Linked DNA regions of Homo sapiens: regions 1 and 2 are each linked to region 3. Evidence: fine-mapped expression QTL. A gene starts in region 3. Each other region holds a variant in brackets. All regions are shown on one strand. Distances are between the middles of the regions.

Region 1 (8,179 bases), 32 kb after region 3:
AAATCCAATAATACTGAAAAGTACAGAGACAATTTAACCATAGTCTTAGCATCCTGGAGTAATGATTTTGGTTCACATCCTTCCAGACATTTGTATATATATTTAAGCACATGTGTCATGTGTGTATATGTTATTACATAAATTGACTCAGAGGTTAGATACTATTCTATTTTCTTTTAACACTATGTTATGGATATCTTTATATGTTAATGTATATAGCTATATCAGTAGTCTCAACTTGGGGTGATTTGGCCTCCTAGGGGACGTTTGGCAATCCCTGGAGACATTTTTGGTTCTAATAACTGGGGAGGTGGGTTCCTGGCATCTAATGGGTAGAGGCCAGAGACATTGCTAACATTCTAGTAGGCACAGGACAACTTCCCATAACAGAATTATTTGGCCCCAAATATTAATTGTACTAAAGTTAAGAAACTGTCCTATATTATTGTTTTTATAATTTTTTATTGATTGATTGATTGAGACACGGTCTTACTGTGTTACCCAGGCTGGTTTCAAACTCCTGGGCTCAAGCAGTCGTCCCACTTCACCTTCCAAGTAGCTGAGATTACAGGTTTAATTTTGATTTTGAAATAGTTGTAGATTTTTATTTTTATTTTTATTTTTTTGAGACAGAGTTTCGCTCTTGTTGCCCAGGCTGGAGTGCAATGGTGTGATCTCGGCTCACTGCAGCCTCCATCCCCCGGGTTCAAGCAATTCTCCTGCCCCAGCCTCCTGGGACTACAGGCATACGCCACCATAACCAGCTAATTTTGTATTTTTAGTAGAGATGGGGTTTCTCCATGTGGGTCAGGCTGGTCTCGAACTCCCGACCTCAGGTGATCCATCCGTCTCTGCCTCCCAAAGTGCTGGGATTACAGGTGTGAGACACTGTGCCTGGCCCGAAATAGTTGTAGATTTACACAAGAGTTTCAAAGATAGTACCAAGAGTTCCTGTATACCCTTCATCTACCTTGTCCTAATATTAATATCTTACATCATCATGGTACATTTATTAAAACTAAGAAATTGATATAGGTACAATACTATTAACTAAATTATAGTCTTGGATTTCACCAGTTTTTTCACTTATGTCCCTTTTCCATTTCAGGATTCAATTTAGGATACTATACTGCAGTTAGTCATCATGTATCTTTAGTGTCCTCCAATCTTTGACAGTTTTCAGTCTTTCCTTGTCTTTTACGACCTTGATACTTTTGAAGGGTACTGGTCAGCTCTTTTGTAGATGTCTCTCCATTTGGGTTTTGGTTTCTCATGATTAGACTTGGCATTATGGATTTTGGGAAAGTATACCACAGAAGTGAAGTACCCTTCTCATTGGATCATATCAAAGTATGATATCAACATAGTATTAGCATGGCTTATTACTGGTGATGGTAACTTTGATCATTTGGTTGAGATTGTATACACGTTTCTCCACTGAAAAAGTCACGATTTTTCTCTTTTTGTGTTATTTTTCTTTTCCATTTCCATAAAATGACAGTACCTAGTCTTATTTGTTGGAAATCATTTGCCAAGTCTGGCCCACACTGAATAGAAGGAGAATTAAGCTTCATTTCCAGGATGAAAGCTTATCAAATAATTTGCGGACATATGTTAAAAGCACCACAGTAATTAATAAATATTTTAGGGGAGATACCCTCAGGCTATGCAGATGTCCTATTTCTCCTTAAAGTTTCACCCTCTGATTTTAGCATTCATCAGAGTCTTTCTTTTCTTTCTTTCTTTTTGTTTTCTTCCTTTCTTCCTTTTCCTTCCTTTTCCTTCCCCTCCCTCACTTCTTCCCTTCTTCCCTCCCTCCCTCCCTCCCTTCCTTCCTTTCTCTCTCTTTCTCTCTCTCTCTGTGTGTGTGTGTGTGTGTGTGTGTGTGTTTAGTACTTCCTGTCTGGTATTACAAGATGCTTCTAGTCCCTTTCAGTGGAAAGAGCTAGGAAATGTATGTATGTATATTAATCTATATATACACACATTTATATTTATTTCTCTATCTGTATGTATATTAAAATAAGCATGGGTTTATACTGGTATCTCTGACTAATCCAGCACCACAAGATTCATTCTAGTCTTCCCCCCTTGCTTATTTGTGACTTCTTTCTCAGAGTAAGAAATTTAGCTCTCATTCCCTATAGTATATTTACTTATTTGTGTAACCTGTAGTTTCAGTGATTACTCCTGTGAGAAACAGATTTACCAACTAGAGTACAATGTTTGCCTACAGTTTGTTTGTTTGTTTTTATCCTTACAGTATCGAGTAGTAACATTGTTTTATGAAGTTACTTAGATCAGCTCCTTTTGTTTTCCTCTCTGAGGTTATATCAGACGTTTGTAATGCAGTTAGATTTCATTTGTTACAGTCTGTAGTCTATCCTGGGTTCCCAGATATTCTGGTTATTTTAAAAAATTTGCATACAGTGGCCAGCTGCAGTGGTTCACACCTCTAATCCAAGCACTTTGGGATGCCAAGGAGGGAAGATTGCTTGAGCCTAGAAGTTTGAGATCAGCTTGGGTAACATAGTGAGAGCCCATCTCTACAAAAAAAAAAAAAAAAAAAAAAATTAGTCAGGCCTGGTAGCACATACCTGTAGTCCCAATTTCTCCTGGCTCAAGCAGGAGGATGGCTTGAGCCAGGGAGGTCAAGGCTGCAGTGAGTCATGATGGTGCCACTGCACTCTAGCCTGGACAACAAAGCAAGACTCTGTCCCAAAAAAACATTTTTAAAAATTTTTTGCATACATATAGTAAAGTGTACTCTTTATGATGTTTAGTTCTATGGGTTTTGACAGATGCATAGAGTCAGATATATACCCCACAGTACCATACTGAACAGTTCTATCACCCTAAAAAATCCCTTATAGTGGCCCCTTTGTAGTCAACCCCTCTATCTCCTTCAATCTCTGGCAACAACTTACCTGTTTTCCATCCCTATTGTTTTGCCTTTTCCAGAATGTCTTAAAATGTAATCATACAATATGTAGCCTTTGAGGTTTGGCTTTTTTCACTTAGCAAAATACATTTTTTTAAAAGGTAGATTGATTGATTGATTGGAGACAGGGTCTCATTCTGTTGCCCAGGGTGGGGTGCAGTGGCGCCATCTCGGCTCACTGCAGCCTCAACTTCCTGGGCTCAAGCAATCCTCCTACCTCAGCACCCCAAGTAGCTGGGACTATAGGCCTGTGCCACCACACCTGGCTCATTTTTGTATTTTTTGTAGAGACGGTTTCACCACGTTGCCCAGGCTGGTCTGGAACTCCTGAGCTCAAGCAATCCACCTGCCTCAGGCTCCGATTATAGGCGTGAGCCACTGCACCTGGCCAGCAAAATACGTTTAAAATTCTTCCATGTTGTTGCATGCGTCCAATGCTCTTTATTGCTGAGTAGTATTCCACTGTTTGGATGTACCATAGTTTGTCTAGTCACCTTTTTTTTTTATGAGACGGAGTTTCTCCCTTGTTGCCCAGGCTGGGGTGCAGTGGTGCAATCTTGGCTTACTGCAACCTCCGCCTCCCGGGTTCAAATGATTCTCCTGCCTCAGCCTCCCGAATAGCTGAGATTACAGGCATGTGCGACCACGCCCAGCTAATTTTGTATTTTTAGTAGAGACATAGTTTCTCCATATTGGTCAGGCTGGTCTTGAACTCCTGATCTCAGGTGATCCGCCCTCCTCAGCCTCCTAAAGTGCTGGGATTACAGGCGTGAGCTACCGCGCCTGGTGTCTATTCACCTATTAAAGGACATCTGGGTTTCTGGTTTTTGGTGATTATAAAGAAAGCTATTGTAAACATTCATGTACAGGTTTTAGTGTGAAATTTCATTTGAGTAAATACCTAAGAGTGGGATTGCTAGGCTGTTTGGTAACTTTATGGTTTAACTTTACAGGAGACTACCAAACTGTTTTCTAAAATGACTGTACCATTTTGTATTTCTCCCAGTAGTGAATGAGAATTCGTGTTCTTCTGTATCTCTATATTATTTCCAGCATTTGGTATTGTCAGGCTTTTTTTTTTTTCTTTTAATTTCCGCAGTTCTATGTACTGGTATCTCATTGTCGTTAATTTACATTTCCCTAAAGACCAATGATGTTGAGCTTCTTTTTTTTTTTTTTTTTTTTTTAGTATTTATTGATCATTCTTGGGTGTTGCTCGCAGAGGGGGATTTGGCAGGGTCATAGGACAATAGTGGAGGGAAGGTCAGCAGATAAACATGTGAACAAGGGTCTCTGGTTTTCCTAGGCAGAGGACCCTGCGGCCTTCCGCAGTGTTTGTGTCCCTGGGTACTTGAGATTAGGGAGTGGTGATGACTCTTTACGAGCATGCTGCCTTCAAGCATCTGTTTAACAAAGCACATCTTGCACCGCCCTTAATCCATTTAACCCTGAGTGGACACAGCACATGTTTCAGAGAGCACGGGGTTGGGGGTAAGGCCATAGATTAACAGCATCCCAAGGCAGAAGAATTTTTCTTAGTACAGAACAAAATGGAGTCTCCCATGTCTACTTCTTTCTACACAGACACAGCAACAATCTGATTTCTCTTTCCTTTCCCCACACTTTCCCCCCTTCCACTTGACAAAACCGCCATCGTCATCATGGCCCGTTCTCAATGAGCTGCTGGGTACACCTCCCAGACGGGGTGGCGGCCGGAGAGAGGGGCCCCCCACCTCCCAGACGGGGC[A/G]GCCAGGCAGAGGCGCCCCCCGCCTCCCGGACGGGGCGGCTGGCCGGGCAGAGGCTGTCCCCCACCTCCTGGAGGGGGCAGCTGCCTGGCAGAGACGCTCCTCACTTCCCAGACGGGGCGGCTGCCGGGCGGAGGGGCTCCTCACTTCTCAGACGGGGCGGCCGGGCAGAGACGCTCCTCACCTCCCAGATGGGGTGGCGGTCGGGCAGAGACACTCCTCAGTTCCCAGATGGGGTCGTGGCTGGGCAGAGGCGCTCCTCACATCTCAGACGGTGGGCGGCGGGGCAGAGACGCTCCTCACTTCCTAGATGGGATGGCGGCCGGGAAGAGGCGCTCCTCACTTCCCAGACTGGGCGGCCGGGCAGAGGGGCTCCTCACATCCCAGACGATGGGTGGCCAGGCAGAGACACTCCTCGCTTCCCAGACGGGGTGGCGGCCGGGCAGAGGCTGCAATCTCGGCACTTTGGGAGGCCAAGGCAGGCGGCTGGGAGGTGGAGGTTGTAGCGAGCCAAGATCACAACACTGCACTCCAGCCTGTGCAACATTGAGCACTGAGTGAGCAAGACTCCGTCTGCAATCCCGGCACCTCGGGAGGCCGAGGCTAGCAGATCACTCGCGGTTAGGAGCTGGAGACCAGCCCGGCCAACACGGCGAAACCCTGTCTCCACCAAAAAAATATGAAAACCAGTCAGGCGTGGCGGCGTGCGCCTGCAATCCCAGGCACTCGGCAGGCTGAAGCAGGAGAATCAGGCAGGGAGGTTGCAGTGAGCCGAGATGGCGGCACTACAGTCCAGCCTCCAGTCTGCATCAGAGGGAGACCCTGGAGAGAGAGGGAGAGGGAGACCATGGGGAGAGGGAGGGGGAGGGGGAGAGGGAGAGGGAGAGCTTTTTTTCAGACAGAGTTTTGCTCTTGTTGCCCAGGCTGAAGTGCAGTGGCACGATCTCGGCTCACTGCAACCTCTGCCTCATCGGTTCAAGCGATTCTCCTGCCTCAGCCTCCCGACTAGCTGGGATTACACATGCCTGCCACCACGCCCAGCTAATTTTTATATTTTTAGTGGAGACGGGGTTTCACCACGTTGGCCAGGATGGTCTAGAACTCCTGACCTCAGGTGATCCACCCGCCTCGGCCTCCCAAAGTGCTGGGATTACAGGCGTGAGCCACCACGCCCAGCCAGTGTTGAGCTTCTTTTCATATCCTTATTTGCCATCTGTATATCCTTGGTGAAGTGTCTCTCAGATCTTTTGCCCACGGGAGTGGGGTTGTTTTCTTATTGATGAATTTTAAGAGTTTTTTTTTTTTTTTTTTGAGAGGAAGTTTTGCTTTTGTCGCCCAGGCTGGAGTGCAATGGCGCGATCTTGGCTCACTGCAACCTCCACCTCCCGGGTTCAAGTGATTCTCCTGCCTCAGCCTCCTGAGTAGCTGGGATTATAGGTGCTTGCCAGCACGCCTGGCTAATTTTTTGTATTTTTAGTAGAGATGAGGTTTCACCATGTTAGGCAGGCTGGTCTCGAAGTCCTGCCCTCAGATGATTCACCTGCCTCAGCCTCCCAAAGTACAGGGATTACAGGCGTGAGCCACTGTGCCTGGCCAAGAGTTCTTTATATATATCCTGGGTATAAATCCTTTATCAGATATGTTATTCGCAAATATTTTCTCCCAATCTGTGGCTTATTTTTTCATTCTCTTCACAGTATCTTTCACAGAGCAAAAGTTCTACATTTTTATAATGCCTAATTTAATTTATCTTTTTTTTTCTTTTATGGATCACGAGGTCAGGAGATCGAGACCATCCTGGCTAACACGGTGAAACCCCGTCTCTACTAAAAATACAAAAAAAAATAGCCAGGCATGGTGGCGGGCTTCTGTAGTCCCAGCTACTTGGGAGGCTGAGGCAGGAGAATGGCATGAACCCGGGAGGCGGAGCTTGCAGTGAGCCGAGATGGAGTCACTGCACTCCAGCCTGGGCGACAGAGCGAGACTCCATCTCGAAAAAAAAAAAAAGAATCTTGAAGGGGTTCAGTGTGTGGTAGCTGTCTTTTCCTCAGTTTCTGGAATTTAATTTCACCTCAGTAGGAATTCATTACTTGAAGCAAACAAATATACCAGAGTCAAATGGGGATAAAAATTCTAGTGAGTGGCAGCAGAAATAGCTTGGGTTATAGGCAGAGCAGCCTGGCATTAGTCCTGTCTCTGCTTCCAGCCAGTTATATGGCCAGGGGAGCCTGAGTATTCTCGAATATAAAATGTTGGGTGTTTGGACTGGATGCAGAGCTTCTCCAGTGTTTGTTTGCAGGTGGACTCCAAGCAGCCACTGCAGAAGCTCTGTGTCGCAGTTTCTCATGTTTTAACTTAAAAATATGTGCCAATTTTGCATTCTCTGCCCTAATGTTTGTTTAGATGTAAAAATGTTTCAATTTTTTTTTTCTGCTACCTAGTAAGATTGATACTTCAGAAGAATGTATCACATGTATGTTATACACATCTCAGTTTGAAAACTATGGCCTTGGCCAGGCGCAGTGGCTCACCCCTGTAATCCCAGCACTTTGGGAAGCCAAGGCGGGCGGATCACCTGAGGTTGGGAGTTCGAGACTAGCCTGACCAACATGGAGAAACCCCGTCTCTACTAAAAATACAAAATTAGCCAGGCATGGTGGTGGATGCCTATAATCCCAGCCACTCGGGAGGCTGAGGCAGGAGAATCACTTGAACCCAGGAGGTGGAGGTTGCGGTGAGCCGAGATTGTGCCACTGCACTTCAGCAAGGGCAACAAGAGCGAAACTCCATCTCAAAAAAACAAAAGAAGAAAACTATGGCCTTATATGATTCTGGTCCCTTTTCCCTTAAAGAGAAGAGCCGTAGGAAAGAATAAAAGCCATAATCTGCACTATAAATTCCAAACCATGAGTCTCATCACACTGACTCAACAGATCAGGCACAGATTCTCCTGCTTTTTTATTTTATTTTTTGAGACAGTGTCTCACTTCAGGCTGGAGTGCAGTGGTGCAATCATGGCTCACAGCAGCCCTGACCTCCTGGCTCAAGCAGTCCTCCCACCTCAGTCTCCTGAGCAGCTAGAACTATAGGCACGTGCCACCATGCCTGGCTGATTAAAACTGTTTTTTTGTTTTTGTTTTGTTTTTTTTGTAGACATGGGGTCTTTGTGTTGCCTAGGCTGGTTTCAAACTCCTGAGCTCAAGCGATCCTCCTATCTTGGCCTCCCAAGGTGTTGGGATTACAGGTGTGAGCCACTGTGCCTGGCCTTCTCCTGCTTTCTGAGCATCTTAATGTGTCCAGTTTATTCAGCATATCTACAGTTGAATTTCTGCCAGAGTTGAAAAGAGTAATTGCCTTGATGTTCCTGCAGCAAACTTATTAGTCCTAACCTACTGAAGTTATGTTTAAAAAAAGTTTTCTTTTAATTAAAAAAGTAAAGTGAGTCAAGAAATCAGCCTTTCCCGTACTCTTCAACATCTCTTCAGTTGAATTT
Region 2 (8,179 bases), 94 kb after region 3:
AGGCTGAGGAGGGCGGAACACGAGGTCAGGAGATCGAGACCATACCGGCTAACATGGTGAAACCCCGTCTCTACTAAAAATACAAAAAAATTAGCCGGGCTTGGTGGCGGGCGCCTGTAGTCCCAGCTACTCGGGAGGCTGAGGCAGAAGAATGGTGTGAACCAATGGGAGAAGAATGGGAGAACCAATGACGGGAAGAATGGGAGGCAGAGCTTGCAGTGAGCCGAAATCGCGCCACTGCACTCGAGCCTGGGCAACAGAGTGAGACTCCATCTCAAAAAATAAAAAAATAAATAAATAAATATAAATAAGTTAGCCACCCGTGGTGGACATGCATGTGGTTCCAGTTACTTCAGAGGCTGAGGCAAGAAGATCACTTGAGCCCAGGAGGGAGATGCTGCAGTGAGCCGGTGTTTGAGCCACTGCACTCCATCCTGGTCAATGGAGTGAGACCCTATCTCAAAAAAAAAAAAACAACAACAACAACAACAAAAATTGCTGGGCATGGTGGCTCATGCCTGTAATCCTAGCACTTTGGGAGGCCGAGCCAGTCGGATCACTTGAGTCCAGGAGTTTGAGACCGCCCTGGGCAATATGGTGAAACCCTGTCTCTACTAAAAATATAAAAATTAGCCAGGCGTGGTGGCACGTGCCTATGGTCCCAGCTACTCAGGAGGCTGAGGCACGAGAATCGTTTGAACCCGGGAGGTGGAGGCTGCAGTGAACCAAGGTCTCTCCACTGCACTCCAGCCTGGGCAACAGAGCGAAACTCTATCAAAAAGAAAAAGAAAGAAGAAAGGAAAGAAAGAAGGAAGGAAGGAAGGAAGGAAGGAAAGAAGCCTTATGAATTATAACAGGATTAAAAGAAAAGTATACCTATGCACATCAGAGTAAAATGGCCAAAAACCAAAGACAATTTTTTCTTTTTTGATACAGGGTCTCACTCTGTTGCCCAGGCTGGAGTGCAGTGGTACAGCCGTGGCTCACTGCAGCCTCCACCTCCCAGACTCATGTGATCCTCCCACCTCAACCTCCTGAGTAGCTGGGACTACAGGCACATGCTGCCACGCCTGGCTAATTTTTTTTGTGTTCCACACCCGGCTAATTTTTGTGTATGTTTTGTACAGACAGGTTTTCAACATGTTGCCCAGGCTGATCTTGAACTCCTGGGCACAGCCATCCACCTGCCTCAGCCTCCCAAAGTGCTGAGATTACAGGCATGAGCCACCACGCCTGGCTGGATGAAATCTTAAAAGCAGTCAGAGAAAAGGGCAGTTTTACCTTCAAAGGAAGACTAGACTAACAGTTGACTTTTCAACAAAAATAATGCAAGCCAGGAGACACTGAATAATATGCAGTTGTCCCTCAGTATGTGTGGGGGATTTGTTTCAGAACAAATTTTATATAAGGGACTTGATCATCCATGGATACCAAAATCTTGATATGTTGCCCAGGCTGGTCTCAAACTCCTGGGCTCAAATCATCCTCTACCTCAGCCTCCCAGAGTGCTGGGATTATAGGCATGAACCACTACACCCAGATTGTATTCTGTTTTTTATTTATGTTATTTTTTATTGTTGTATTGTTATTTTTAAAAATTATTTTTCCCCGACTTTTTTATTTATTTATTTATTTTGAGGTGGAATCTTGCTCTGTCGCCCAGGCTGGAGTGCAGCGGTGCGATCTTGGTTCACTGCAACCTCCACCTCCCTGGTTCAAGCAATTCTCCTGCCTCTGTCTCCCGAGTAGCTGGGATTACAGGCGCCCGCCACCACCCACAGCTAATTTTTGTAGTTTTAGTAGTGACAAGGTTTCACCATGTTGGCCAGGCTGGTCTCGAACTCCTGACCTCAGGGGATCTGCCCACCTTGGCCTACCAAAGTGTTGGCATTACAGGTGTGAACCACTGTGCCTGGCCTCCCCAAATATTTTTGATCCATAGTTGGTTGAATCCGTAGATGCAGAATCCCAATAGAGAAGGCCAACTGTACTCAAAGGGCTTAAAGAAAATCGCTGCCTGTCTAGAACTCTATACTCAGCAAAAACATCCTTTAAAAATTAAGGTAACATAAGGCTTTTTCAGACAAAAAATTAAAAAGATAGTTCTTTCCAGCAGCCCCATATTGAAGGAAATAACATAGGGTGCTTTTCTGTCGGAAAGAAAATAACCCCAGATGGAAGCTCAAAAATGTAAGAACGACTAAAAAACAATGAAAATGGCTGGCTGCAGTGGCTCACACCTGTAACCCCAGCACTTTGGGAGGCCGAGGCGGGTGGATCACCTGAGGCCAGGATTTTGAGACCAGCCTGGCCAACATGGTGAAACCCCGTCTCTACTAAAAATACAAAAATTAGCCGGGCATGGTGGTGGATGCCTGTAATCCCAGTTACCCAGGAGGCTGAGGCAGGAGAATCACTGGAACCCAGGAGGCAGAGGCTGCAGTGAGCCAAGATCACGCCACTGCACTCCAGCCTGGGCAACACAGCAAGACTCCATCTCAACAACAACAAAAAATAGATCTAGATGTGTATGTGTCTGAACACACACATTGACGTAGTTCCTTGTTCTGTCTGCTGAGACTGCCTGAAATCAGTGGCACTCTGGCAGCACTGAACATCTTTGGCGCCCATTATAGATGGCATTCTCAGTGCTGGACTAGGGCTCCTTGTGGGCTGGAGCAAGAAATGTACAAGATGAACCTAGAATACCTTGCTGTGCCAGGAAATAAATAAATGCTCAAAGAATTATGAAGACACACTAAAGGGCGCAGCTGCCAACTTGAAGCATCTTCCACTGGCCAAATCTAAGATAGTATGACTTTCAAAATAGGTATCAAGTAATGGATTGTAGTTCATTGAGAAAAATAGGAATCCACGTGTTTATATGATATAAATAGATAAATGAATAAATACATTGGGGAGAATGGAAAGCTCTGTTTCGTCATAGAATAAGAATATTAACTAATAAATGTAAAAAAATGTTGAAATTAGAAAAACCTTGGCCTAGAGCAGTGGTTCACACCTGTAATCCCAGCACTTTTGGAGGCCGAGGTGGGTGGGTCACCTGAGGTCAGGAGTTCGAGACCAGCCTGACCAATATGGTGAAACCCCATCTCTAGTAAAAATACAAAAATTAGCTGGCTGTGGTGGTGGGTGTATGTAATCCCAGCTACTGCGGAGGCTGAGGCAGGAAGATTGCTTGAACCCAGGAGGCAGAGGTTGCAGTGAGCCGAGATTGTGCTACTGCACTCCAGCCTGGGCAACAGAGTGAGACTCTGTCTTAAAAAAATAAAAATAAAAATAAAAAAAGGGAAAATCTTCACTTGGCAACCATCGTAGTAGTAATTGATTTGGGTTGAAACTGGGTGAAGCAACTTTGATATGGAACAGGATATTTTTATACTCTCAGAACATCTCCCTATGAAATATTTATTCATTACTCATCACTTAACACGTACTAAATACTGTTAACTTTCCAGTGGAGAAACCTGGCAGACATCATCTTAGCCAAGTGGTAAACATTAACATCAGCAGTAATGGGACAAGTTGACATTGTGTGACTCCTAATATGGTACACTGAGAAGAATGTCGCATCGTTTCTGTGGTATTCCTGCCAGAGATGCATAAATCATGAGGACACAGCAGACAAATCCAAACTGAAGACAACCTACAAAGTCATTGACCTGTATTTTTCAAAAATCTTGGCCAGAGAAGGGAAGCCTGAAGAATTGTTCTAGAATAAATTAGACTGAAGAGACTCCTTGAAGGCGACTGAATTGGATGCTGGGCCTGTAAAGGTAATTTGGGGGACAATTAGTGTAATTTGTTGTTGTTGTTGCTTGCTTTTTAGTTTTTTTAAATTTTTATTTATTTATTTATTTTATTTTTTATTTTTATTTTTATTTTTTTGGTATTTATTGATCATTCTTGGGTGTTACTCGCAGAGGGGGATTTGGCAGGGTCATAGGACAATAGTGGAGGGAAGGTCAGCAGATAAACATGTGAACAAGGGTCTCTGGTTTTCCTAG[A/G]CAGAGGACCCTGCGGCCTTCCGCAGTGTTTGTGTCCCTGGGTACTTGAGATTAGGGAGTGGTGATGACTCTTAAGGAGCATGCTGCCTTCAAGCATCTGTTTAACAAAGCACATCTTGCACCGCCCTTAATCCATTTAACCCTGAGTGGACACAGCACATGTTTCAGAGAGCACGGGGTTGGGGGTAAGGTTATAGATTAACAGCATCCCAAGGCAGAAGAATTTTTCTTAGTACAGAACAAAATGGAGTCTCCAATATCTACTTCTTTCTACACAGACACAGTAACAATCTGATCTCTCTTTCTTTTCCCCACATTTCCCCCTTTTCTATTCGACAAAACCGTCATCATCATCATGGCCCGTTCTCAATGAGCTGTTGGGTACACCTCCCAGACGGGGTGGCGGCCGGGCAGAGGCGCCCCCCACCTCCCAGACGGGGCAGTGGCCGGGCGTAGGTGCCCCCCACCTCCTGGACGGGGCAGCTGCCGGGCGGAGGGGCTCCTCACTTGGCAGACGGGGTGGCTGCCGGGCGGAGGGGCTCCTCACTTCCCAGACAGGGCGGCTGCCGGGTGGAGGGGCTCCTCACTTCTCAGACGGGGCGGCCGGGCAGAGACGCTCCTCACCTCCCAGATGGGGTGGCGGTCGGGCAGAGACACTCCTCAGTTCCCAGACGGGGTCACGGCCGGGCAGAGGCGCTCCTCACTTCCCAGACGGGGTGGCGGCCAGGCAGAGGCTGCAATCTCGGCACTTTGGGAGGCCAAGGCAGGCGGCTGGGAGGTGGAGGTTGTAGCTAGCCGAGATCACGCCACTGCACTCCAGCCTGGGCAACATGGAGCACTGAGTGAGCGAGACTCCGTCTGCAATCCCGGCCCCTCGGGAGGCCGAGGCAGGCAGATCACTCGCGGTCAGGAGCTGGAGACCAGCCCGGCCAACACGGTGAAACCCCGTCTCCACCAAAAAATGCAAGAACCAGTCAGGTGTGGCGGCGCGCGCCTGCAATCCCAGGCACTCTGCAGGCTGAGGCAGGAGAATCAGGCAGGGAGGTTGCAGTGAGCCGAGATGGCGGCAGTACAGTCCAGCCTCGGCTTTCACAACTTTGGTGGCATCAGAGGGAGACCGGGGAGAGGGAGAGGGAGAGGGAGAGGGAGACGAGGGAGATGAGGGAGACGAGGGAGACGAGGGACGAGGGAGAGGGGAGAGGGCAGAGGGGAGAGGGGAGAGGGAGAGGCTTTTTAGGTTTTTTTGAGACAGGAACTCACTCTGTCACCCAGGCTTGAGTGCAGTGGCGTGATCTCGGCTTACTGCAACCTCTGCTTCCTGGGCTCAAGCGATCCTCCCATCTCAGCCTCCCAAGTAGCTGGGACTACAGGTGTGCACCACCACGTCCAGCTAATTTTTCTGTATTCTTTGTAGAGACAAGGTTTTACCATGTCTCCCAGGTTGGTCTTGAACTCCTAGGCTCAAGTGATCTGCCTGCCTTGGCCTCCCAAAGTGCTGGGCTTACAAGCATAAGTCACCACGCCCAGCCAATTGGTGTAATTTGAATGGAGTTAATGCATTAGTTTATATGGTTAAATAGTAGTATTTTATCAGTATTAATTTTCTGGTTCTGATTTTGTAAGGGTAATGTAGGAGAGTATAATTTTTTTTGAAATACATACTGAAGTATTAAGAGTAATGGGGCATAATATATACAATTTACTTTCAAATGGGTTGGAAAAATTACATATACTAATATAATATATATTATATATAAGGGATAGATAGAGAGAATAAGGCAAATGAGTAATCTAAGGGAAGAGTGTATGGATGGTCTTAGAACTATTTCAAAACTTCTGCAAGTTTGAAATTATTTCAAACTAAAAAGTTTATAAGAAAGTGAATCAATAAAAAAGATATATTATGCAAATACCAACCAAACAATGCTGTTATAACTATATTAATATCAGAAAAAGTAGACTTTAAGGCAAAAATAATTATTAGAAATAAAGAGAGCTGGGCGCAGTGGCTCACACCTGTAATCCCAGCACTTTGGGAGGCCGAGGCCAGCGGATCATGAGGTCAGGAGATTGAGACCATCCTGGCTAACACAGTGAAACCCCTGTCTCTACTAAAAATACAAAAAAGTTAGCCAGGCGAGGTGGCGGGTGCCTGTAGTCCCAGCTACTCCGGAGGCTGAGGCAGGAGAATGGCATGAACCCGGAAGGCGGAGCCTGCAGTGAGCCGAGATTGCGCCACTGCACTCCAGCCTGGGCGACAGAGCAAGACTCCGTCCCCCTCAAAAAAAAAAAAAAGAAATAAAGAGAGACTGCCGGGCGAGGTGGCTCACGGTTGTAATCCCAGCACTTTGGGAGGCCGAGGCGGGTGGATCACGAGGTCAGCCCAGCCAACACAGTGAAACCCTGTCTCTGCTAAAAATACAAAAATTAGCTGGGTGTGGTGGTGGGCACCTGTAATCCCAGCTACTCAGGAGGCTGAGGCAGAAGAATCGCTTGAACCTGGGAGGTGGAGGTTGCAGTGAGCTGAGATCATGCCACTGCACTCCAGCCTGGGCGACAGAGCTAGACTCCCTCTCAAAAATAAATAAATAAATAAATAAATAAATAAATAAATAAATAAATAGAAACACTTCATTAAAAAAAGTTCAACCCATCAAAAGATGAACTAATTCTAAGCCAAGCATGGTAGCACGTGCTGTAGTTCCAGCTACTCCAGAGGCTGAGGTGGGACGATCCCTTGAGCTCAGAAATAAGACCAAATCAGCCTAGGCAGGGAGACATCATCTCTAAAAAAAGTAAAATTAAAAAAAGATAAAATAACTCTAAACTTAGATTCTCCAACAACATAGCCTCAAAATACTTAAAGCAAAAACTGACAGAACTCAAAAAAGAAATAGACAAATTCAAAACCACAATGGGAATTTTAACATACTTCTCAATAATGGGTCAAAAAATTAGCCAGGTGTGGTGGCACATGCCTGTAGTCCCAGCTGCCCAGGAGGCTGAGGTGGGAGGATTGCTTAAGCTTGGGAAGTCGAGGCTGTGGTGAGTCATGACCACACCACTGCGCTCTAGCTTGGGTGACAGAGCAAGACTCTCAATAAAAAAGAAAGAAGAAAGGAAGGAAGGAAAGAAAGAAAAGGAAAGGAAAGAGGGAAAAAGGGACACAAAAAAAGAAATGTCAGAAATGAAAAGGGAGAAATCACTATAGATCCTACAGATGATGGTAACTCATACATTTCAGGTAGAATTGTAAATGCGTACTAGCATTTAGAAATCAGTTTGGTATTGTTTACTAAAGTTGAAGGTATACATATCCTGTCACCCAAAGTTTTATTCTTAGGTGTACAGCCAAGAGACACATATGCACTTTTGGGAAAAAAAACCCTCAAATATTTATTAATAGTACAATGTATAAGTGAAAAATACTATGCAGCAATGAAAACAAACTACTGTTTTATGCAATAGCATGGATGATGCTCACAAACCTATTATTGAGTAAAACAAAACAAAAAAAACCTTACCCCCCAAAATATATACTGTATGATTCTACTTACATAAAGTTCAAAAATAGCAAAAAAATAGTGTTTGGTATTTGAAGTCAGGGAAATCAACAAGAGGTGACAAAACACTTATCCTCAGGACTAGCAAGAACAGAAAAGTGTTATTACTCCTAAGCCTAAAGGAACAAGGGGAGAAGATGTCGCTAGAATCCTACATAAGAGATGACACCTGGATGGACTTATGACCTTTAAGTAGAGGACAGGGAGGGATCTGGGGAAATGAATACCCTGATCTCTTTTTCCTCCCATGCTTGTCTTCTGCCAGTGCTCCCCGTTGGTCAAGCCCAATCAGAAGGTGGAGAGTAGGAAATCCATTTCCTGCAGCTTATAAAGGTTGGCTTCCAGGAACACAGAACAAGATGGAGAAGAATAAATAATGGATCTGGAGGAGAAAACAGAGAACACTAGAGTAGTATTAAATCTGGAAGAAAAATTATTGGATTGTCTAATAAATTTTACAAAAAATGTAGTTATTTGATAACAAAAGTAAACCATATAATGAACTTTTAAATTTTTCCAAGGTATTATTGACTCCTGAAACTTGGCCAGATGGTGCCTGCAAAATTCTATGGGTTCAGGTAAAAAAAG
Region 3 (8,172 bases):
GGTGGCTCACGCCTGTAATCCCAGAACTTTGGGAGGCTGAGGTGGGTGGATCACCTGAAGTCAGGAGTTTGAGACCAGCCTGGCCAACATAGTGAAACCCCATCTCTACTAAAAATACAAAAATTAGCCAGGCATGGTGGCGCACACCTGTAGTCTCAGCTACTCAGGAGGCTGAGGCAGAAGAATTGCTTGAACTCAGGAGGTAGAGGTTGCAGTAAGCAGAGATCATGCCATTGCACTCTAGCCTGGGCAACAGAGCAAGACTCCATCTCAAAAAAATAAAGAAAAAGAAAGAAATTTAAAAATCAGGAAAAAGTAGATCTCTGTATTGGTCAAAATATGGAAAGAAATATGAGGGACAGTCCTGGCATGGTGGCTGAGGCAGCCAGATCGCAAGGTCAGGAGTTTGAGACCTGCCTGACCAACATGGTGAAACCCTGTCTCTACTAAAAATATAAAAATTAGCCGGGCATGGTGGCACACACCACACACACACACTCAGTGATGTGAGCTGAGATCACATCACTGCATTCCATCCGGGGCGACAGAGTGAGACTTTGTTTCAAAAAACAAAAACAAAAACAAAAAACAAAAAGCTAAAACAATAGCTGCCTTTGGGGAGTGGGAATCAGTTGATGGCAAGACAGAAGATGGCCTTTTTTTTTTAACTTTGCCATATGCCTAATTGATTTTTTAAAAAATTATTACATGTATTTTGATTAAAAACATATTTTAGAAAAAATAAAGGAAATAAAATATTGCAGAAAAATGGAAGGTCCCTGGGGTAGCATTTGTTACCTTGGTAAATTCATCAGCATCCTGGGTCCAGCTTAGAAACCAGAGTTGTTAGCCCTAAAAGCAGCAGCATCTCTACAGAACAGACACACATTAACCAGGTTCATGAGACTGATATTGCAAATCAGATGCCAATTCATTAATTTATAAGAGGAAGCAGGGCTTTGAAGCAGACTGGATCTTCCTGTTCAATGATGAGTGCATTCTCTCCCTGTGGACTGATCTACATAGGAAACAGAATGGTTTTTAGAGGGTTGCTTGGTGATCCAGAGCATGAGTGAGGTAGGGGGTGAATTGAGTGGCTCCAAAGAATGGTACTTCCATCTCCCTTTTTCCTGGACCAGCATCTTTGTCCCCAGAGAAGGGACACTGCTGGTGATTGTCTTGGCAACTCTCCCTGATCTCTGGCTTCCTTGGCTGCCCAGACCCTCCTAACTGGCACCCTCTTTCTTTAGCTGCATTAATACTTTTAACCAGGTTGTAGTCTAGACTGGGCCTGAGAGTTCTTCTGTCTCTATAAGGTATAGTTTGGCTCTGCGTCTGCAACCAAATCTCATCTCGAATTGTAATCCCCATGTGTCCAGAGAGAAACCTGGTAGGAGGTGATGGATCATGGGGGCAGTTTCCCCCATACTGTTCTTGTGATAGTGAGTGAATTCTCACGAGACTCGATGGTTTTATAAATGGCAGTTTTTCCTGCACTCACACCCTTTCCTGCTGCTTTGTGAAGAAGATGCTTGCTTCTCCTTCCCCTTCTGCCATAATTGTAAGTTTCCTGAGGCCTCCCAAGCCATGCGGAACTATGAGTCAATTAAACCTCTTTTGTTTATAAATTACTCAATCTCAGGTGTTTCTTTACAGCAGTGTCAAAACAAACTAATACAATTGGCATATCTCTACTTTAAAGCATTAGAGGTGAGATGTGGTGGCTCACATATGTAATCCCCGCACTTTGAGAGGCCAAGGTGAGAGGATCACTTGGGCCCAGGAGTTTGAGACCAGCCTGGGCAGCATAGGGAGACCCCATCTCTACAAAAAATTAGCCAAGTGTGGTGGTGCATGCCTCCTATGGTCCCAGCTACTCAGGAGGCTGACGTAGCAGGATCCCTGGAGCCCAGGAAGTCAAGGCTGCAGTGAGCCATGATTGCACCACCGCACTCCAGTCTGGGCAACAGAATGAGACCCTGTCTCAAAAAAACACAACAAAAAAATTCGGAGGCCAAGACAGGTGGATCACTTGAGGTCAGGAGTTCAAGACCAGCCTGGCCAACATGGTGAAACCCCATCTCTAGTAAAAATACAAAAAATTAGGGGGAGGGGGGAGGGATAGCATTATGAGAAATACCTAAAGTAAATGACGAGTTAATGGGTACACCAACATGGCACATGTATACATATGTAACAAACCTGCACATTGTGCACATGTACCCTAGAACTTAAAGTATAATAATAATAAAAAAAAAGGGACAGAAGCAGTATGATCTTTAAAAAAAAAAAATTAGCTAGGCGTGGTGACAGGTGCCTGTAATCCCAGCTACTCGGGAGGCTGAGGCAGGAGAATCACTTGAACCGGGGAGGCGGAGGTTACAGTGAGCCGAGATTGCGCCACTGCACTCTAGCCTGGGCAACAGAGTGAGACTTGTCTTAAAGGAAAAAAAAAAAAAACGCAAAAACTAAAACATTAGAGTTTTGTGTTCAGTCATATACTCAGCACCCATGATGTGCCAGGCTTTGTTCTAAAGCCCTGGGGTACAGCCATGAATAAGGCTGACATTTGTCTGCCCTCATTCAGTTTACAGTCTGACGAGGAAGACATTAAACAAACAAAAGTATGCAAAGTGAAGAAGCAGTGTTAACTCTCAGAAGACAACTTAATTTCCTTTTTCCTACTTCTTGAGGAGGGGCAGCACCTCCTGGTTGCCCCCATATATCATCTACAATGAAACCATGGGAAGAGCTGCAGGGTGGGGGCTGTAGTCTAGGTAAAGAAGGCCCATTCTCCAAACATAAATTTCCAGCCTCCCTTGAGGTCTATACCACCAATTATTCCAATAAAGTCATTTTCTGCTTACATTTGTCTAAGGTTGGTTTTTTGTTTGTTTGTTTTGTTTTGTTTTTTTGTTTTGAGACAGAGTCTCGCTCTGTCGCCCAGGCTGGAGTGCAATGGCGCAATCTCGGCTCACTGTGAGCTCCGCCTCCCGGGTTCACGCCATTCTCCTGCCTCAGCCTCCTGAGTAGCTGGGACTACAGGTGCCCACCACGACACCCGGCTAATTTTCTTGTATTTTTAGTAGAGATGGGGTTTCACCGTGTTAGCCAGGATGGTCTCGATCTCCTGACCTTGTGATCTGCCCGCCTCAGCCTCCCAAAGTGCTGGGATTACAGGCGTGAGCCACTGTGCCCTGCCTAAGGTTGGTTTTTGTTATTTGTAACCAATAACCCAGACTAGTACAGCAACCATCTCAGACATCTGTGGACCAGAGAAAAGTCACTAAAGGACAATCCAATGCCTGTGCCTTGGGGCTGCAACCAAACCTGGAACCCTTCTGATTTGTGTCTTCCGTTTAGCACAAAGCAGGGCACACAAGCTGTCTCAGTGAAATCTGGTTAGCTGAGTCCCTCAGTAAGTCAGTTAGTTCACAAATGTCTGCCAGAAGCTGTTCTAGGTGCAGAAATCACAAAGCAAGTAGGAGCAGGTTTCTGCCTTCAAGATGTCCCACATGCAGCACAGACCCAACGTATCTAAAACGGAAGGCTGTCATTTTCCCTGCCTTCCCAACCCATATAACAACACACATCCGTGTCCCATGCTCCAACCACACTGAATTGCTTGCCCTTCTCACTTCCGTCTGCCAACAGTGAGTAGTTTGGTGTTCTTAGACCACAGGGGTGGGAGGGAAAGAGAGAGACAGCAGACAATCAGGCTGGGGTAGACAGACACCAGACCTTGATGCCAGGTGGAGGAATCTAGATGTATTGGCTGCTGTCCCAAGTTACTCTCCTCTGGCCTAAATCTCAGACTGGCCGTATAGTTTAATTTTTTCTCTTCCACCAAAGGTCATCTGTGTAGAAGATGACACAAAGGGGGACCCAGCACGGTGACCCGTGCCTGTAATCCCTGCACTTTCGGAGGCTAAGGAGGGAGGATCATTTGAGCCCAGGAGTTCGAGGCTGCAGCGAGTCATGATCGAGCCACTGCACTCCAGCCTTGACGCTGAGTGAGACCCTGTCTCTTAACAAAATATATTTAAAATTTAAAAAGAAGATTATACAAAGGGGTTATCTATCATCTTGGCCAGCAATGCAGGGCAAAACTTGAAACAACTTGGTCCTGCAGTATTTTCCAGATGCCAAATCCTCATTCTCTACTGTACAGCTCCTACAGTGTTTTGTGTGAGATGAGAGGGAGCATGGCGGGTCTCAGCTGGCTTTGCCCTGGGAAAAATTCCTCATTTCTGCACCGCCTCCCCAAAGCGGGGGCTAAGCCAGCGCCGTCTGCCTCTCCACCTAGACCAGACCCCTTCCCTAGATGCTCTTATTTCCCTGAAGCCTCACAACAACCCTGTGAGGTAAGCATTACCATCCCTTCATTTTACAGATGAAACTGAAGCTCAGGAAGGTTACGTTTCGGGCTCTAAATCCCGGAATCTTCGCTTCGATGCCATCCAGGCTTGGGCCACTGAGCTCAAGAAACGGGCCGACGGGTGACCAGACGGACGCCGGGACCAGCCCAAGTTCAGGGCTGAGGGCCGCCAGGTGGCGCGTTTCCCTCCCCCTACCCCTCGCGGCGGCTCGGGCGCACCTGAACCCAGCGGGGTGCGCCGGGGAAAGTAGGCGCGCAGGGTGGGGCGGGGAGTAGCCCTAATTCCCCAGCTCGGAGTGGGCAAGGAGCACGGTTTAGCTCAGCCGGCTGGCACCGCCAAGCGGCCGCCGGGCCGCATCAGCCCTCCTCCTGTTTGCGCTCCCCAGCGTGCAATTTATTTGGGGGGCTACCGGGGATTGAACGGAGCGGGCGAGCGCTGCCAGGAGGTGGGGCCGGCCCCACCTGTCGACTGCCCGTAGTAGGCAGGGAGAGGGCGGGGTTTGTCCCATAGGGCCCGCCCCCCAGTCCCTGGGTCCCGGGCGCGCGACGAGATATAAGGCAGTCAGGAAACAATGCGCCTGCAGCTCGCGCTCCCGCGCCGATCCCGAGAGCGTCCGGGCCGCCGTGCGCGAGCGAGGGAGGGCGCGCGCGCGGGGGGGGCGCGCTTGTGAGTGCGGGCCGCGCTCTCGGCGGCGCGCATGTGCGTGTGTGCTGGCTGCCGGGCTGCCCCGAGCCGGCGGGGAGCCGGTCCGCTCCAGGTGGCGGGCGGCTGGAGCGAGGTGAGGCTGCGGGTGGCCAGGGCACGGGCGCGGGTCCCGCGGTGCGGGCTGGCTGCAGGCTGCCTTCTGGGCACGGCGCGCCCCCGCCCGGCCCCGCCGGGCCCTGGGAGCTGCGCTCCGGGCGGCGCTGGCAAAGTTTGCTTTGAACTCGCTGCCCACAGTCGGGTCCGCGCGCTGCGATTGGCTTCCCCTACCACTCTGACCCGGGGCCCGGCTTCCCGGGACGCGAGGACTGGGCGCAGGCTGCAAGCTGGTGGGGTTGGGGAGGAACGAGAGCCCGGCAGCCGACTGTGCCGAGGGACCCGGGGACACCTCCTTCGCCCGGCCGGCACCCGGTCAGCACGTCCCCCCTTCCCTCCCGCAGGGAGCGGACATGGACTACGACTCGTACCAGCACTATTTCTACGACTATGACTGCGGGGAGGATTTCTACCGCTCCACGGCGCCCAGCGAGGACATCTGGAAGAAATTCGAGCTGGTGCCATCGCCCCCCACGTCGCCGCCCTGGGGCTTGGGTCCCGGCGCAGGGGACCCGGCCCCCGGGATTGGTCCCCCGGAGCCGTGGCCCGGAGGGTGCACCGGAGACGAAGCGGAATCCCGGGGCCACTCGAAAGGCTGGGGCAGGAACTACGCCTCCATCATACGCCGTGACTGCATGTGGAGCGGCTTCTCGGCCCGGGAACGGCTGGAGAGAGCTGTGAGCGACCGGCTCGCTCCTGGCGCGCCCCGGGGGAACCCGCCCAAGGCGTCCGCCGCCCCGGACTGCACTCCCAGCCTCGAAGCCGGCAACCCGGCGCCCGCCGCCCCCTGTCCGCTGGGCGAACCCAAGACCCAGGCCTGCTCCGGGTCCGAGAGCCCAAGCGACTCGGGTAAGGACCTCCCCGAGCCATCCAAGAGGGGGCCACCCCATGGGTGGCCAAAGCTCTGCCCCTGCCTGAGGTCAGGCATTGGCTCTTCTCAAGCTCTTGGGCCATCTCCGCCTCTCTTTGGCTGAAGCTGCCCGTGTAGTCCCCAACCGTGTCTGTCTGGCACGTGGGTGTGTTGGTAAACAGTTTGGAAAAGTGGCGTGGGAGCCAGCCTCCCTTTGATGATTATTGGAGCCCCAGGGGACAAGGGATTTGAGGTGAGGGTTGGCGCTTAGAGAGGACAATACTGGGGTTGGACTGTAAGGGATTGAAGGGGGTACCTTAAGAGACACTCCAAACCTGAAGTTTTTTTGCTGCTGCCTCTTTCCCTAGGAAACTCACACTCCCCTAGGGGGAGAAGAAGCCGAGAGCCTTTTGTGCAAAGCCAAAACCTTCGTCCTTTTAAAAACCTAGGTCTCCAGTTGGCTTTACTTTAAAATGCCAATAATAAATGCCCTCTTCTCGTGCCTCCCCACCACCACTTACCACTCGTGCATCCCTGAGACAGGGAGGGAAGAATGAACACTCCCCATTAACAGATGGAAAAACTGAGGCTTAGAGATAGACAATCACTACAAGTCAGCTCCAGCTTTCTGCCATCTAGCCAGCCCCTCTTCCCCAATGCTCCATCCCAACCAGGCACCTCTTCCTTGATGTTTGGGGTCTTTGTGGTAGCTTATCTTAGAAGCACTACACCTTGCCTTGCTGTTTGTCCTGAGATGGAAAAGTGTCCTTCTTGCTCCCCCTCAATAGATCTCCAGCGTCAGCTGCTCCCTGGCATTCAACAAATATTCACTGGCCCCTACTTTGTGGCAATCTGTGGGCTACATGCTGGGGTCAAGGCAGTAGAACTCCAGGCCCTCCTCTCCCATCCTTGATGCAAGTGCAACCTCGCTGAGGGCAGACTGGGGCATCCTGTGCCACTAAACTACATTGTTCTTATTCTGGCATCTTAGACCTCCACACCCGTGAGAAATCCTGGAGAGGGTATTTTTGTAGAGTGTAGACTGTGGCTAGTGACAAATAAATTAGGACCAAGAAAGCTCACTGTAGCTTTTAGGAATAACTTTTACACGACCATTTGATAGGGAACTGGGGAATGGGGTATGGAAGTTTTCCTACACTTGAGAGAAAAAATAGGATAACAAAAATTAAAAGTCTTTTTTTTCCTGGTCCACTGTGTTAAGGTCATTTTTAACCAGCTTGCTTTCTACACCAAGAGTTTATGTTTGTTTAATGGCTGGAAAGAGAATCTTGAGATCAAAAAACCAATAAAGATGTATCTCTACAACGGCTGGTGGAGTGGTAGAGTGGAAAGAGCATTGCTTTGGAAGTTGGACATTTTAGTTTGAGATCCAGAACGTTACAAAGGTGATATGTGGACTTCGCTGATCTGGGCCTCAGTTTCCCCATTTGCACACGATGGGGTTGGACTTGATTGTCCTGCTGATGACATTTCCTTGTCTGGATAGAGTAAGACACTACTCTCTGAAAGGGAGAATGGTGTCTTAAATTATTTCTTTCTTAGATAGAATCTTCCTGAGCCACGAGGCTTAACACTGAAAATTAAAGGTTTGGGATGTAGGGAAGCCTGCTGAATCATTTTCTAACCTACCCTTTAACCTGAACCTGTTTGTGAGCTTCTAGTTCACTCACAGGCCACATGGCCTGGAACAAAATGCAACAGATTGCAAACAATGAGGCGGGGGGTGGGGAAAGTGATTGGCAGCAGAGCTCACCCAATAGGGGCTAGGGGCTGGGTAAGACAGAAGTCCAAACACAGCGTAATCAGCCAATCATGGGCTTTGGGGCCAGGAGGGCTGAATGGTCAGGTTTATTAATGGAGAAATAATGCGATTGTCCACACAATGGAAGCCTTCCTGACAAAGGGGCTCAAGCTTCCTGATATGCAAAGAAGCTGAGAACGGAGCTCTTCCTTTGCGAGGCCGAGATCCATTAAGGTGGACTTCTGTGTGGAGGCTGCAAAATGTGTGGAGCAGGAGGAGACTTTTCTCCCAATTGCCCCTCTCCTGGTTAGGTTAACCTAAGAGACCTTCAAGCCAGTGAATGAGAAGGGCGTGTCCAGGTGTCTCCAGGTCTCTGGTGTTAT

Evidence for each region. PIP is the estimated chance that this variant, and not a neighbour inherited with it, causes the effect. A credible set is the group of variants that fine-mapping cannot tell apart.
Region 1: its variant is the best candidate, but not a certain one, in a credible set for the expression of MYCL in whole blood (TOPMed, PIP 0.71).
Region 2: its variant is the best candidate, but not a certain one, in a credible set for the expression of MYCL in whole blood (TOPMed, PIP 0.77).

Annotation. Positions count from the first base shown.
Region 1 is chr1:39,866,463-39,874,641 of GRCh38, reverse strand. The region is part of intron 1 of TRIT1 (tRNA isopentenyltransferase 1); the gene reads left to right. Among named protein-coding and RNA genes, the nearest start is that of MYCL-AS1, 13 kb to the left of the region's middle. The variant A/G (reference allele first, on the strand shown) is at 4,689.
Region 2 is chr1:39,804,672-39,812,850 of GRCh38, reverse strand. LINC02811 (long intergenic non-protein coding RNA 2811) reads left to right here. Exons shown (of 4, transcript NR_186710.1): 3 at 3,480-3,797. LOC130932201 (a long non-coding RNA gene) reads right to left here. Exons shown (of 4, transcript NR_186719.1): 2 at 7,819-7,973; 3 at 4,653-4,849; 4 at 3,416-3,789. Among named protein-coding and RNA genes, the nearest start is that of LINC02811, 8.7 kb to the left of the region's middle. The variant A/G (reference allele first, on the strand shown) is at 4,029.
Region 3 is chr1:39,898,793-39,906,964 of GRCh38, reverse strand. MYCL (MYCL proto-oncogene, bHLH transcription factor) reads left to right here and starts at 5,048. Exons shown (of 2, transcript NM_001033081.3): 1 at 5,048-6,026. The coding sequence starts at 5,531. It overlaps MYCL-AS1 (MYCL antisense RNA 1), which reads right to left. Exons shown (of 3, transcript NR_183425.1): 3 at 7,867-8,172. RefSeq lists silencers at 4,475-4,684, 4,945-5,264, 5,675-5,794 and an enhancer at 7,654-7,948.